Homo sapiens: one gene and its partners. The protein of the gene in region 1 purifies or fractionates together with the protein of each later gene. This does not show direct contact. Each region holds a gene or a part of one and is shown on either strand. Other genes may lie near its edges. The genes, in order: TSNAX, SMG7 and RGPD8.

Region 1 (3,657 bases):
AACACAAAGCTATACTTACAGAACGTTGTATATACCTAACATTTAATAAAACAGTACAACAACTGGGAGTCTACATAAAGATTACATTACCTATGGGAAAAATAACCCGCAGAATCTAGAATCTTTTCATAGTAAATTCATGCCTCTAACACATTAAACTGCCTCATGTCCTGCCCTTAGCTCATGAGCCAGGCAGACTATGTCTTCTTGCTAGTCCTGATTCTCTAAGCTTGTACCTTTCTTGATGCCTCTATTTTTGCTACTGCCTCTCATCATCTCACATTTCACTTTCATCATTCAGATATCATTCTGCTCAAGGACTGCTTAAGAATCACGTGCCTCCCTCCTCCCTTACTCTCCATTCCTTACCACGCTTCACTGATTTACATTTATCCTTCGCTAGCTAAAATTATATTATTTATTTGTAAATGCACTTGTTTCACCACTGTATCAGAGCATAGATCCATGTCTAGCAGCAGGTGTTCACAAAACATTTCCTGACTGAACTGCTTGTTGAAATCATAAGCAGTATAACATACTGGATAAGAGCATCTGTTGTAGTTTGAGATAAACGTACTAAGGGTATGCAATCTCCTGGGAACTAAGAAATTGTTGAAAAGGAACTGCAAATCCATGTGCCCAATAAGCACTGCCCCTAACATGGAATAATGTCTTATTATTTTGCTGCTATTACTTTTTCAAATGTATGCTAATGCAGTTGGAATAAAGTATAAATTACTCATAATAGTAATATAAGTTAATTTTATAAAGCACTGTTGAATCTGTCTCATCAGCTTCATTACTGTCATCCAAATCTAAGTTACCTTATTACTTTATTACCTCTAAGTTACCTTACAAATACCTTACTGTACCGGAACTACAAAATAGTCTCTTGTCTGGTCTGCGTCTGCCCACCTTGCCTTTCTGTAGCTGCCAGAGTGACATTTCTAAAATATACTTTAGTTTTTAAGACTCTCTAATGACTCTGCATTACGTTTAACAAACTCCAAACTCTTTATGAAGCCTTACATTACTTGGTCCCTTGCAATACCCCCAAAAAGAACAAATCAACAAACCATCATTTATGTAGTATTCCAGCCAGGGATGCATAACCTGAATCTAACCATGAGAAAATATTAATCAAATCTAAGTTGAGGAATATTCTATTAAATAAGACCTATATTCTTCAATCAATATCATTGTCAAGAAAGACAAAACTGGGAAACTGTTCCAGATCACAGAAAACTAAAAAGAGACATTACAATGTAATATGTGATCCTGTTCTAGATTACTGGACTAGAGAGAAAAAAAGCTGGAAGGAACCTTATTGAGACAATTGTCAAAATATGCACTGTAGATTAAAGTATTATGTCAGTGTTAAATCTCCTGAAATTAGTTAACAATACTAGAGTTATACAACAGAATAGTCTTCTTCCTAGGAAATATATTCTGAAGTATTAACAAGTAAAGGGGTATGATGCATGCAACTTGTTCTTAAATGGTTCAGAATATATGGTTAGACATATAAATTTACATATATAGAGAGAATAATAAAGCAAAAGTGGCAAAATGTTAAAAATTGGTCAATCTAAGTCAAGTCTATACAGAAATTCTCTGTACTATTTTTCCAACTGCATTAAGTCTTCTAGTTTTTTAAATAAATTTGAGATTACCTCAAAATAAATTTAAAAAGAGACAGTATTTCTTTACTCAGATGATTCAACAACAGTAGAATATTGATCTGATAACTCCTTTTAATGCAATTAACTCCAACTTTGATAGCAAAGTGGTTGCTCGGACATTAAAGATCCTGGGTTTGAGTTGAACAAACTATACTATCTCATGAAATTTTGTCTGGAAGCTAGTGCTTCTCATTAAAGACTTTCCGGGCCGGGCGCGATGGCTCACGCCTATAATCCCAGCTCTTTGGGAGGCTGAGGTGGGTGGATCACTTGAGGTCAAGAGTTCAAAACCAGCCTAGCCAATATATAGTGAAACCCCATGTCTACTAAAAATACAAAAATTAGCCGGGCATGGTGGCACAGGCCTGTCGTCCCAGCTACCTGGGAGGCTGAGGCAGGAGAATTGCTTGAACCTGGGAGGCGGAGGCAGGAGAATTGCTTGAACCTGGGAGGCGGAGGTTGCAGTGAGCTGAGACTGCACCACTGCACGCCAGTCTGGGTGACAGAGTGAGAGTCCATCTCAAAAAAAAAAAAAAAAGACTTCCCATGAAATCCCTTTTAAAATCTCCTCTGACAGACCTGTAAGCTTTTATGTCAAACTTTTCCAAAACACTTGGTAAATCTTATGAAAGGAAAAAAAAGGGAAATGATTTTAATTTTCTTAGAATACAAATGGCTAGAAAGCAAAAACAGTCTGTACCTAAAAGTACTGTCTCTATATGTAAGAAAGCAATAATTATTCAGTTTATGAAAATGAAGAGAATAAAATCATCTTATTTCTAAATTACATGGAAATCAAAAAGGCTCAACTAAAATATTTTCCTCTTTAAATATAGGTATGTATTAACTGGGTTTTACTACTTAGTCTCACAATGGGAATACTGTACAAGTTGTAAAAAATGAACTTAGTAAACAAGAGATTATCACAAAATGACACGTAACAAAGAGTTACATAAAGTTTTAAAAATTACTTTAACCACATATATTAATAATATAAACACCTCCAAAAAAAGAAACTTGGACCTTTTTTTTCAAGTTTATTAAAATTTTTTTCCCTGTTGTCTTCCTGCTTTTCCACCTTTACTGGGGTATAACTGACAATTAAAAATTATAAGGCCAGGCATGATTGATTATGCCTGTAACCCCAGCACTTTGGGAGGCCAAGGGGGACAGATCACTTGAGCCCAGGAGTTCGAGACCAGCAGGGGCAACACAGTGAGACCCTGCCTCTACAAAAAAATCTAAAAACTAGCCACGTGTGGTGGCACATGCCTGTAGTCCCAGCTACTTGGGAGGTTGAGGTGGGAGGATCACTTGAGCCCAAGAGGCTACGCTTGCAGTGAGCCAAGATCACGCCACTGCACACTTCAGCCTGGGCCAGGGTGAGGCGTTGTCTCCAAAAAAAAAAAAAAACCAAAACTGTGTGTGTGTGTGTGTGTGTGTGTGTGTGTGTGTGTGTGTGTGTGTGTGTGTGTTATTACCACTATTAAGCTAATTAACGTATCCATCACCTCAGTTAGTTTTTTTTTTTTCCTTTTTGAGTCAGGGTCTCTGTTGCCCAGCCTGGAGTGCAGTGGCCCAATCACAGCTCACTGCAGCCTCAAACTTCTGAGTTGAAGCAGTCCTCCTGCCCCAGCCCCTCCGGAGTAGCCAGGACTATAAGCATACTACAGGCGCATGCTGTCATGCCCAGCTAATTGTGGTAAAAACATTTAAGATCTACTTACTTAGCAAATTTCAAGTATAAACTTCCTGAATTTATCAAGCTCTGTACCTTGAAATACCCTTAAACCACTTAACTCTCTTAATAACGCCTTTATTTCCCAAGTCTTTTCACTCCACAGCCCCGCAAGCTGCCTGGCCTATAGGAAACACCCAATCATGTATATTGCACGAACTGAAAAAACAAGAACTTAAACTATTAACTAAATTAGTAGCTGACATGGATCTAAATATATCTAGTCTTTTATTACTG
Region 2 (3,657 bases), about 48 Mb from region 1:
CAAAAAAAGAGCTGGTTACAAGCTGTCACTTACCATGTGACATACCTGCCAAAATTCCACTCTTATATTTCCTTGTAAATGCTTAGTTACAATTTCCCAGACAGCTGATAAGTCTATTCATAACAATACAGCAACTAAACTAAAATATGGCTTGACTGCAAAACTTTAATGGCAATATATAATGGCCATCTGCCAATATACCTACAAACAGATGAATAATCCACTATCTACAAGACGTATGCTTTATAATTTATTCTCTACACAAGATCAATTAAACTAACCCATCTAAACTTTCAGGCACTCATTCATGACACTAATACAAAAATTTGAAAGGCTAGCCGGAGGCAGGAAACAATTTTTCTCAAGTATAAAACACACCAGCCCTTTTAAAGTGTGAACCACTCTCCACCTCAAAACTGCCTCATGAAACTTGCAATACTAGTGGGTCCAGATCTTACTGTAACACATCCATTAAAAACAACAACATAAAACTCAGCAATTGCTTCTTCTACCATGAAGGCAGAAGACCACAGCTGTTAGAAAGCAAAGAAATGAAACCTAAGATAGGACAGGAAGTATACATTTTGAATCCAAATGAAACCACAAGGGAAGCAGAAATTAACTGCCAAAATAATTTAGTCAGACAATATCCAAGCAGGTAATAAGCTATTAACACTGTTATAACAAAGACTTATAAGCCTAAAGAGACAGTCATTCATTCAAAAAATGTCACCACCTTTGGCTGATATTCCGGGACAAAAGCTACTTTACATTCTGTAAAGCATGTACCTGGTGGAAAGGAAGGGGATGGGGCAGGTGAAGAAGACTTCGTGGACCACATGGACTAAAATCAGCATGTGCTCTAAGACTTCTAGAAGCTTCAGGATACAGTGACTATCTGATCTAGCATTACTAGACTCTTCTAGAACCTGGAGACCATCCTATTTATATATTCCTCCCAATGCTCCCACTATCTTCTCTGTTCCTCTCCCCAGGCTAGGATAAGGCTTAGCTTGCTACTTTATCCAGCCTTATCTCCACTATCTCTCTGTTTCAAGATTTATAGTGATACATTTTTATTTTATACCATATTGGATATTTTACTTCCTATTTAAATGACAACCATTTTTCTGCTGGCTTAGAAAACAACCCTGTGGCTGTTATATTAGTAACAAAACTTCTGACAAGTGAGCCACTGAGATGCAGCGTCTTCACTATACATGTATCATACAAAAAATATATGTATATATACACACATATGTGCATAGACACATATACATATATGTATACATACACACATACACACATGTATATATGCACACATATGCACACACATGTATATATGCATATATACACATGCACACACGTATATATGCATATATACACATATGCACACACGTATATATGCATATATACACATATGCACACACGTATATATGCATATATACACATATGCACACACGTATATATGCATATATACACATATGCACACACGTATATATGCATATATACACATATGCACACACGTATATATGCATATATACACATATGCACACACATGTATATATGCATATATACACATATGCACACACGTGTATATATGCATATATACACATATGCACACATGTATATATGTATATATACACATATGCACACATACACACACACACACACACACAAAACAAAACAGATACTTTCTGGACCTTTCCTGTAAAGGAGTCTAACAGTAGGAATCCACTTCAAGTGGATCTCACTGAAACACTCACAGCATAGGAAGAAATTAGAGACAAAAGAGAATAGTGAAGGAAGAAAAGGAGGAAAGTTGAAGGGAGCATAGAGTATGAACAGTGGCTCCCACAATGGCAGCAGAAGTCATTCGGTGGCACCTGTGCCACCTTTTATAACAGGATTTGACCTGTTTGACTGGTATTCCCTATAGCTATGATTATTCTACTTTCTCATCTTCCAAAACAACTTTGATGTCTTCTCTGTCTGGTACTTTAATACTTCCCCCACTCCTGCTTTTCCAACTTTGATATGTTAATTTCCACTTTTCTTTTTTTCAAAATGCCATTATTTTAAAGCATAATATTATACCTCACCTGCGGCCTATCCTAACCTTCTCCTACCCCCATCAAATGAATTGTATTCAATACACCCTTTCTTTTACTCAACAGAGGTGTCAAAGTCTTTTAAAATCTTTCATTCTGTCATAAATCAAAAGAGAAAATACTCTGAATTCTCCTTCAATTTGAGTAATAAATTCCCAATGTTATTCGGCCTAGAACCCTCATATTTAAGATCATATTTTTATTTTTATAAAACATAACAAAGTATTTTCAACTTAACTGATTCTCTTAGAAGTCTTGTCAGTGTATTAAAAAGATACTTACCTTTCAACAAACAAAAAATTTCATTATCCTTTCCTGCCCAGAATATCATCATCTTTCCCACATAGAAGATAGGTTTTCTTCCTTTCATCTCTGCTCTATTTTTATAACTTGAGACTAATTCAGTTCCCTTGATGTTGAATTCTCTCTTTATTGGTCTTACTGGGACTTCTTGCCTCCTATCTTCATTTCTGACCCTTCTGAAACAGCCATCTTGCTCCTTGGTTTCCCACCACCCCACCATTTCAATGCCAGACATCCCAGCTCATTTACTCTAACAAATTAAAATTCAGCCAAGACAAAACTAATTTTCATCTACATGAGGCAGGATCTGTAGCTATAGAGATTAAAAATTGCCCAGTCATGATCTTCCACCACTGACAAAGGTAGGCAAGAAAATTCTTCAAGTCAAGGTCACGAAAACAATTGCTACACCCCCCAACCACATCCATTCAGCAATACTCGGCATCCTCCCTGAAGTGTCTATAAAAACCAACAGTTCTATTTTCAAAGAACGTGAACATAATGCTTCCCTAAAGACATTCTCTAGTGTCCCCACTGCAGACTTTAAATGGAATGATTATCTAAAAGAGGAGGAGGGAAATTCAGACTGGCACAAGCCTTTATGATTCCCACAACCACCACCTAGGTCTCAGACTTCTAACACTTGTTTTAATTTACTTAGGACAAATGCCTAAGATTGAGACAAGACTGGCTCCAGGAATCTTTAAGGGACCCCAGGACCTATGCCTCCCCCATTTTGCCTGCTCAATTTTAGCTGAAAAATATCATTGTATTCATTTTTTTTCTCCCTTCTTCAAAGAACTAAGTTCATCTCAAACTATCATTGATTCCACATCTAAGGAAGTCTTCCCTACCATGTCAAGCTATAAAATATAAGGCACATTAACAAGAAGCCTCTCAAAGTCCACTGATCTTCCCCATTAAAAGTACCACCACTCTGCCAATTTGTTTTTCATAACTTTCTAGATCCACTGCCAGTACCTTATTCAGGACCAAAGTCCCAAAGGGAATCTTTTGTAAGGAAAAGAACCTTACAAAAAGGACCAATTTTGAAGTCTTCCCCTTTTCTAAGCAGTAGTCACTCCCCAATTAATGTCAGGCTCTAACAACCTTACTTTTCTCTGTTATCCACCACTACATTACACAGAGTCATTTTCCTAACACATAGCTGTGAACATATTAATTCTAGCAAATCATCTCAGATTCTCCATTGTCTACCCATTTTAACTATAAATTATGGAAC
Region 3 (3,657 bases), on another chromosome or scaffold:
CTGGTCAGTGTTTTTGCGTTGGTCTTATATTTTGGTAATTTCAAAAATACTCAGTAATATGTTGTTATTAATGCACAGAAGGGATGCGTGTGTCTAAATGCTTAGATTTGCTTGCTTTGTCTTAGGTTTGGTGTGTCTTTTTAAACTTGGGAATCTAGGTATATGCTCTTAAAAAGTACTTCTTGGGGAATTAGAAAAGATTTCTAAGATAAGACATTGATTTTGTTATCTTAGCAGTGTAATCAAAACAAATATTATAACCTCAGGACTAATTCTTAATGAACTTTGCTGAAATTGAAAGTTGTTGCTGACAACTTAAGAGCATTTCTTCTCATCGTCATCAGCCATTATGAACGCCCTTGTTTTCTTGCTGTCAGCTGTTTGAGATTGTCATGATGATGTTAAATTATGTTCAGTCTTCTGAGTGTTTTGTTGATTAATTTGTGTTACTACTCTTTTATTAGGATTTATGTTGTCTGGTGTATTGTAGCATCTGTATTTCTGTCACCATTGAAAATCAGTTAGAAAACATCAGTAACTTATTTTGTTCACTTGGAAAAGCTTTCCAAGTTAACATTCCTCTACAATTATCATGGTTAACAGAAGTAATAGAAAGAGCATGGACTTTAGAATCAGAAGATGTTAGACTGTACAACACTTTTCTGTGTTCCTGAAGAAAAAAATAGAATAAAGACAAAAAAATAAAAATAATAATACAAAACAACAGAAAAACAAAGAAAAAAGATAATTAAAAAACACTTTCACGTGTATTATTATTTAAAGTGTAAAGTGCTTATTAAAGTGACAAAAATGTAAATAAGATAAAATATATCATTTTAGAGTTTTTACTTTTGGAATTTTTTGCAAATGAAAGCCCTTAATTAATGTCTTTTATTTTTAGTTGCCTGTGCCCCTGGAGTCTGTAAAACAGATGCTTAATTCAGTCATGCAGGAACTCGAAGACTATAGTGAAGGAGGTCCTCTCTATAAAAATGGTTCTTTGCGAAATGCAGATTCAGAAATAAAACATTCTACACCGTCTCCTACCAAATATTCACTATCACCAAGTAAAAGTTACAAGGTAAACAGGAAAGAATGGAATCATTTCATTGTGAAATTGTTTCTGTTCTAAGTGTTTTAAATGCTGTTTTGTTATTTTTATTTTTTTTTTCAGTATTCTCCCGAAACACCACCTCGATGGACAGAAGATCGGAATTCTTTACTGAATATGATTTGCCAACAAGTAGAGGCCATTAAGGTAAGTCACTTAATTTCTCTAGCTGTACTTTTTATTCCAAGATTCCTTCCCTGGCTACTCTCTCACTTTTTTTCTGAAGCTGGTCAGAATGTCCCCTTGCCATCCAAATAGTATGGCAAGGGGACATTTTGGTCTTTTTTTTTTTTTTTTAAGACAAGGGTCTTGTTCTGTTGTGCAGGCTGGAGTACAGTGGTATGATCACAGCTTACTGCGGCTTCAACCTCCTAGCTCAAGAGAGCCTCTTGGCTCAGCCTGCCACGAAGCCAGGACTACAGACAGTCACATGCCACCAGGCCCAGCTAATTGTTGTATTTTTTGTAGAGATGGGATTTTGCCATGTTGCCCAGGGTGGCCTTGAACTCCTGGCTCAAACAATCCTCCTGCTTCAGCCTCCCAAAGTGCTGGGATTGCAGGTGTGAGCCACTGTGCCCAGCCTACATACCTCGGTCTTGACCCTTTACCATATTTTGTTTTGTTTTGTTTTGAGATGGAGTCTCACTCTGTTGCCCAGTCTGGAGTGCAATGGTGTGATCTTGGCTCACTGCAACCTCCACCTCCCAGGTTCAAGTGACTCTCCTGCCTCAGCCTCCCGAGTAGCTGGGATTACAGGCACCCGCCACCAGGCCCAGCTAATTTTTGTATTTTTAGTAGACACAGAGTTTCACCATGTTGGCCAGGCTGGTTTTGAACTTCTGACCTCAGGTGATCTGCCCACCTTGGCCTCCCAAAGTGCTGGGATTACAGGTGTAAACCACCGCACCCAGCCCTTTACCATATTTTTGAAAGTACTTTATGTGTCTCTCTCCTCATCTTCCACAAAATTTGAGACCTTCAAAGGTAGAAACTGTTTTATTTAAAATATAAGAGTTCCTGACACAGAGAAGGTTCCCGAGTGATTGAAGTGCTACAATGTACTAATCATACTCTGGTCTATGAGTTCATTCCCAGATTAGCTGTGGATTACATGTGTTTCAAATGTATAGCTAGGAATCGAAAAGTGGTCTGAGCTTCAAAAAGTCTTACTATATTTTAATACTTCCATATGAATTTGACTTAATTATGTAAGGAAATAGTTATGTATATATATCTTATTTTAACAATAGGGTTCAAAGGAGCTTGACTTTTTTGGAATTGGAAATAAAAGTAGGTTCTTTCATGTTTATCAAGCAAGAACTAAATTACTCATACTGCTAAAGTTACATCAAGGATATGCTGATGTGTGGCGATTATTACAGTGTGATCAGCAGCATTTGCAAATTAAGAGAATACTATTTGGTGGGGAAGACATTTTTGAATTTGCACAAAAATTTTGAATGTTAATTCTGTGTAGTCGTGGCCTATGACAATTACATACAATTTTGACTTAACATACAGGTTTCAGGCTCCCAACATTGTATTCTGTGGAAGTATAGTGGAGCACTAGTCCATGAGCTTGAAAAGCTTGGTACTAGTACTGACTCTGCCATTAATTAATGATCTTGGGCCAGTCACTTCCTTTGTGACTGTTTGGCTTCTTATCTTTAAAATGAGAGAATTATTGAAGCCAGTTCTCATCACACTGAATGTTAAAAATTACAGTTACAGCAGTGATTGCAAATTCAAAGCTCTGGTGCGGATACCAACAGTGACTATAAAGTTTTCTAGGTGATTCCACTAGTTTCTTATTTCTTGGATGTGTATGTGTAGCATCTGGACTAGGCACTGTAGATGGATGAATGGGGGAAATTTTATTTAGCTTGAAAATTGAGATAGTTTTGGACCTCATGGTTAGGTCTTTCTGGGAAATTTTTAATTGAAACACTTGTAGAAACAGAAAGCAGACATGCTAGATCTGTCCCTGACCTCACTTGTTAGAACTGATCGGATTCCTGGGCTGATACAGAGAAGTTTGAAACTTTTCAAAATTTACCTGTTTTCTGATACCACTACAATTTCTTTGGAAAAAGAATTTCCTGTTAAGTGTCTGTTTTGTAAGGGGACATTTTGTAGGTTCTAGGGTGTTGGGTATGGTGCTGTCATTTAGTTTTCTTCAGCAGAGATCAGGTAGCCACATAGCTACACTAGACGGCATTGGATCTATCTGCCATCTTGTCAAGGCAGCAGAGTTGTGTTAAGAAAACATTTTTGGAGTCAGATGTGTTTCAAATTCCAGCTGTTATTCCCTGCATCCGTTTCTCTCATTTTAAGATAGGAGCTAATATTGTTTACCTAACAGTGTAGATGGTGTAAAAATTAAGAGTTTAAGTGCATTGGACGTATTATTATATACATAATAAATTCTCTGCAGCTACTACTTTTTTCCCTTTCCTGGTGGAGCATTTGAACATCACCTTGAGAATTAGTTGTATTTTGTTTGAACACAGGGTTAAGTGAAAAGCTAATTTGGGGAGGTGATTTGG

The links.
Region 2: the proteins of TSNAX (region 1) and SMG7 purify together in Homo sapiens (affinity purification with mass spectrometry; 3 studies listed by BioGRID and IntAct, with this or other methods). This does not show direct contact.
Region 3: the proteins of TSNAX (region 1) and RGPD8 purify together in Homo sapiens (affinity purification with mass spectrometry; 3 studies listed by BioGRID and IntAct, with this or other methods). This does not show direct contact.

What each region holds. Positions count from the first base shown.
Region 1 is NC_000001.11:231,531,632-231,535,288, reverse strand, and holds part of TSNAX (translin-associated protein X), read right to left. Parts: intron 1-3,657.
Region 2 is NC_000001.11:183,475,421-183,479,077, reverse strand, and holds part of SMG7 (nonsense-mediated mRNA decay factor SMG7), read right to left. Parts: intron 1-3,657. UniProt on the Homo sapiens protein: Plays a role in nonsense-mediated mRNA decay. Recruits UPF1 to cytoplasmic mRNA decay bodies.
Region 3 is NC_000002.12:112,395,523-112,399,179, reverse strand, and holds part of RGPD8 (RANBP2-like and GRIP domain-containing protein 8), read left to right. Parts: intron 1-901; coding exon 902-1,081; intron 1,082-1,174; coding exon 1,175-1,258; intron 1,259-3,657.